2 separate regions of the Homo sapiens genome follow, and region 1 is linked to region 2. Evidence: fine-mapped expression QTL. Tissue or cell type: whole blood. Region 2 holds a variant in brackets; the other region holds the start of a gene. All regions are shown on one strand. Distances are from middle to middle. Region 1 holds the start of USP15 (ubiquitin specific peptidase 15). Region 2 has its middle 10 kb from the start of TAFA2.

Region 1 (2,500 bases), 58 kb before region 2:
CTTATAATAAAATTACTGTCCATTTTACAGCATGAAGATAATGAGGTGCAATGATTTAAATTAACTCTCCTCAAAGCCATACTGCAAGTTGAGTGGTGAAACTGTGACATAACTCAGGTCTAAATCTTACTGTTCCTTTCACTATGCCATACTGAAACACTCTATGAATTATATACTACTGTTATGGTAACAGTGGAAAGTGAAAATATGTTTTATTATAATGAAGAGGCACATTATGCTTCCCAAAAAATAAGGAATTTTAAATTATGTTACATATTCACATATTTAAGTTATTGTAGATGCCACTTGATATGGTCGACAAGTGTGAAAATGTCCACATACATCCTTCAGTATTTTAAATGTATAACCTTTGGTATTTTACAAGTTTGAATATTAGCAGTTAGTTAAGCCTCAAGTGGACTTATCTACTTTTTGCAGGCCTACATTATCTTTCAAACAGAAGGGAAGGGCTGCACGTCTAACAGAAACGCTGCCGGCTTCTATCAAGCCACCACTAAAGCACAAGACCACGTGGTCTCTCATAAGCCCAAGGTTCCCTACTCCTCTCCCTCCTTTGACAAGGAACTGGAAACTAGGGTTTCTTTCTCTTATGTGGAGCCCTGACATGCCACCTGTGTAGTACAGACCGCAAACATCCTGCAGCCTGCCTCCCGGAAGACCAAGAATCAGAATAAAAGGGAACTTGGACGCCGACAATTCTAGGAAAGGAAATGAACAGAGAAGTAAAGCCGGTGAGATCGTGATAAGCCGCGGCACCGGGACCTGTCAAAACGGCGTATATAAGACTCAAACCAAACCACTATAACCTATCATTCGGGAAGGCCTGAGGTGGGAGCGGCACTACGGAAGGAAGGAGGACGAAGAGAACCGCACGAGTCAGAACCGCCGCCGCCGCCGCTCCCCGGATACCTTTCAGCATGCCCTGGCAAGCCAAGAACCCTGACCCTCATCTAGAGTCCAACCTTTGCCCCAACATTTCAGAAGCGGCCAAAATCCCGCTGCCCCGGCGGCCGCCGCCGGACCTGCCCGCACCTGTCACTAGCGAAAGAACCAGCTCGCGGCTCCCGCCCACTTCTCCACTATCCTCGGGCAACCGCGGGCATCTCAACCCCTTTCTCTTACCAGGTGTCCCCTTTCCGGAGCGAGGTTTTGAGCAGCGTCGCGATGTCAGACCGCTGGGTGTCCAGATCCGCCGCTCCGCCTTCCGCCATCTTCTTCCACTAGCGGTAGGGGAGGTGGCAGCGACGGCGGCGGCACGCCCCAGAGCATTATGGGAATGGCGTCCCACGGCCCCTCCCAGTCGGCCGGTCGAAACCAAAAGACACCGGGAGCGGGGGTGCTCCTCGGGACAAGAGGAGGCCCCGGGGGCGCACTGGGTGCGCGGCCATGGTCTGCTGCCCCCCATCGGTCCCCGCCCGTCCAGCATCTTGCCTTGGCCTCCTCTGGCCCGGGACTGCCGGGTTTTAGCTTTCCTCGCCGCCGAGGGCTCTGGCTCTCTCTCGCTAGAGGGATGCCACCGCCCTGTCCTCCCGTCCTCAGCGTTGCCTTCCCCTCCCTCTTTCCCACTGACGCCTTGAAAACCCTTATTTGCGCATTCACTCACGCTTGAGGGTGAGGTAGGGTGGGGCGGTGGTGTGGGGGCGTGGGGACGGCTAAGATATGGCAGAAAATGTAGCAGCTCAGTGACTGGGCTTTTCGTTACGAGTGGGAGAACCCAAGCTCGGTGAATATGGGCACACACAAAAAACACTCCGAAACCGAACGCTTGGTCTCCATGCCCTTCCTGGGTTCCTTCCAGCGCTCTTACTCCCGTTGTAGGTGGGGACCCTTTATAGGCTCTTTGTGACGCCTCCCCAGGCACACCCAGACGACTAAGCTGCAGTGAAAAACATGTCCCAGTTCATCGGTGAACAGGGAGTAGAATATGGACAGTATTGAATAATGCCAGATACTAAAGGAAGAAAACGTGCGAGAAACCCTCTTGTTTATACAGGATAGTAACATTTTCTTAGCCCCATCTTCGTATGGTGCCGTACACCTGAAATGAAACTAGATATGTCTTTAATTTGAAGTCAACGATTATGTTACAAAATAGAAAATCGAGTCGCTTAAAAATCAAATGCCAAGGTCACACAGCAGGTGGAGAGGTGAGTGGAGAGGCTGGTTCAAGAGCCCACATGCTATACAGTATAGCACACTCACTGCCTCTCCTTCTGAAAGCCTGAACTAAAATGTAAACTCTTTAAGAGCTGGAACTGGGTTCATCTTTTGTTTTAGCCTTTGTACACCTGGTGGTTAGCACAGTACTGATGGACATGTAAAAATTACCTAAATATTTGTTTAGTAAATGAATTGTGGCAAAATTACTTAAGTATTCCCGAGCATGATGTCCAGGGGTGTGATTTTAACATACCATATTGATGTGAAAAGTCTAAAAGATGGGCCGGAATCCCCACATCATTTCTCGTTTGCCCATTTT
Region 2 (3,020 bases):
TAAGATACTCCATGAGGAGATCAACCCCAAGACACATAATCATCAGATTCTCCAAGGTCGAAATGAAGGAAAAAATGTTAAGGGCAGCCAGAGAGAAAGGCCAGGTCACCTACAAAGGCAAGTTCGTCAGACTCACTGTGGACTTCTCCTGAGAAACCCAACAAGCCAGAAGAGATTGGGGGCCAATATTCAACATTCTTAAAAAAAAAAGAATTTCCAACCCAGAATTTCATATCTGGCCAAACTAAGCTTCATGAGCAAAGGAGAAATAAGATCCTTTCCAGGCAAGCAAATGCTGAGGGAATTTGCCACCACCAGGCCTGCCTTGCAAGAGCTCCTGAAGGAAGCACTAAATGTGGAAAAGAAAAACCATTACCAGCCACTACAAAACCACACTGAAGTACAAAGACCAAAGACACTATGAGGCAACTACATCAACAAGTCTGCAAAATAGCCAGCTAGCATCATGATGACAGTATCAAATTCACATAAAACAGCATTAACCTTAAACGTAAATGGGCTAAATGCCCCAATTAAAAAACACAGAATGGCAAGCTGGGTAAAGAGTCAAGACCCATTGGTATGTTGTATTCAAGAGACTGAGCTCATGGGCGAAGACACACATAGGCTCAAAATAAAGGGATGGAGGAGAATTTCCCAAGCAAATGGAAAGCCAAAAAAAGCAGGGGTTGCAATCCTAGTTTCTGACAAAACAGACTTTAAACCAATGAAGATTAAAAAAAGACAAGGGCATTACATAATGGTAAAGAGTTAAATTCAACAAGAAGAGCTAACTGTCCTAAATATATAGGCACCCAATACAGGAGGACCCAGATTCATAAAACAAATTCTTAGAGACCTACATAGAGACTTAGATGCCCACACAATAATAGTGGGAGACTTTAACACCCCACTGTCAATATTAGACAGATGATCGAGACAGAAAATTAACAAGGATATTCAGGACTTGAACTCAGCTCTGGATCAAGTGGACCTGATAAATATCTACAGAACTCTCCACCCAAAAACAACAGAATATACGTTATTCTTGGCGCCACATGGCGCTTACTCTAAACTTAATCACATAATTGGAAGTAAAACACTCCTCAGCAAATGCAAAAGAACCAAAATCATAACAAACAGTCTCTCAGACCACAGCACAATCAAATTAGAGCTCAAGACTTAAGAAACCCCCTCAGAACCACATAACTACATGTAAGATGGGTGTGGTGGCTCATGCCTGTAATCTCAGCACTTTGGGAGGCTGAGGTGGGTGAATCACTTGAGGTCAGGAGTTCAAGACGAGCCTGGTCAACATGATGAAACCGTGTCTCTACTAGAAATACAAAAATTAGCTGGGCATGTTGGCATGTGCCTTTAGTCCCAGCTACAAAGGAGGCTGAGGTATGAGAATTACTTGAGCCAGGGGGTGGAGGTTGCAGTGAGCTGCGATTGCACCACTGCACTCTAGCCTGGGTGACAGAGCAAGACTGTCTAAAAAAAAAAAAAAAAAAAAAAAAAAAGAACCACACAGCTACATGTAAATTGAACAACTTGCTCGTGAATGACTCCTGGGTAAATAATGAAATTAAGGCAGAAATCAAGAAGTTCTTAGAAACCAATCAGAACAAAGAGACAAAGTACCAGGATCTCTGGGATGCAGTTAAAGCAGTATTAAGAGGGAAATTTATAACACTAAATGCCACATCAAAAAGCTAGAAAGGACCGGGCACAGTGGCTCACGCCTGTAATCCCAGCACTTTGGGAGGCCAAAGCAGGTGGATCATCTGAG[G/A]TCAGGAGTTTGAGACCAGTCTGTCCACCTCTACTAAAAATACAAAAATTAGCTGGGCATGGTGGTGGGTGCCCAGCTACTAGGGAGGCTGAGGCGAGAGAATCACTTGAACTGGGAGGCAGAAGTTGCAGTGAGCCAAGATCGTATCATTGCACTCCAGCCTGGGCCACAGAGCGAGACTCTGTCTCAAAAAGAAAAAAAAAAAACTAGAAAGATCTCAAATCTAACATCACAATTAATAGAACTAGAAAACCAAGGGCAAACAAACCCCAAAGCTAGCAGAAGACAAGAAATAACCAAGATCACAGTAGAAATGAAGTAGATAGGGATATGAAAAACCCTTAAAAAATCAGCTAATCCAGGAGCTTGTTTTTTGAAAAAAATTAATAAAATAGACTGTTAGCTAAACTCATAAAGGAGAAAAGAGAGAAGAATAAAATAGACACAATAAAAAATCATAAAGGGGATATCATCATTGACCCCACAGAAATACAAACAGCCGTCAGAGAATACTATAAACACATCTATGCAAATAAACTAGAAAATCTGGAAGAAATAAATAAATTCCTGGACACATACAACCTCTGAAGACTGAATCTGAAAGAATTTGAATCCCTAAATAGACCAATAAAAGGTTATGAAATTGAGGCAATAATAAATAGCCTACCAACCAAAAAAAGCCTAGGACCAGACAGATTTGCAGCTGAATTCTACCAGAGGTACGAAGAGGCACTGGTACCATTTCTTCTGAAACTATTCCAGACAATTGAAAAGGAGAGACCCCTCCCAACTCATCTTTTGAGGCCAGCATCATCCTGATACCAGAACCTTGCAGCAATACAGCAACAGCAACAACAACAACAAAGTTCAGGCCAATGTCCCTGATGAACATCAATGCAAAAATCCTCAACTGGCAAATCAAATGCAGCAGCACATCAAAAAGCTTATCCACCATGATCAAGTTGTCTTCATCCCTGGGATGCAAGGCTGGTTCAACATATGCAAATCAATAAACATAATTCATCACATAAACAGAATTAAAGACAGTAACCACATAATTATCTCAATAGACATAGGAAAAGGCTTTTGCTGAAATTCAACATCTCTTCATGTTAAAAACTCTCAATATACTAGGTATTGATGGAACATACCTCAAAATAAAAAGAACCTTTTATGACAAACTGACAGCCAATGTCATACTGAATAGGCAAAAGCTGGGAGCATTCCT

Evidence for each region. PIP is the estimated chance that this variant, and not a neighbour inherited with it, causes the effect.
Region 1: USP15 starts here. The variant in region 2 is fine-mapped to the expression of USP15 in whole blood (TOPMed, PIP above 0.99).

The regions. Positions count from the first base shown.
Region 1 is chr12:62,259,147-62,261,646 of GRCh38, reverse strand. USP15 (ubiquitin specific peptidase 15) reads right to left here and starts at 1,243. Exons shown (of 22, transcript NM_001252078.2): 1 at 1,144-1,243. The coding sequence starts at 1,232. It overlaps MIR6125 (microRNA 6125), which reads right to left and starts at 1,288; the gene lies at 1,193-1,288. It also overlaps a transcript of TAFA2 not described here. RefSeq lists enhancers at 1-14, 738-787, 1,008-1,367, 1,918-1,987 and silencers at 1,408-1,517, 1,598-1,657.
Region 2 is chr12:62,201,325-62,204,344 of GRCh38, reverse strand. It overlaps a transcript of TAFA2 not described here. Among named protein-coding and RNA genes, the nearest start is that of TAFA2, 10 kb to the right of the region's middle. The variant G/A (reference allele first, on the strand shown) is at 1,793.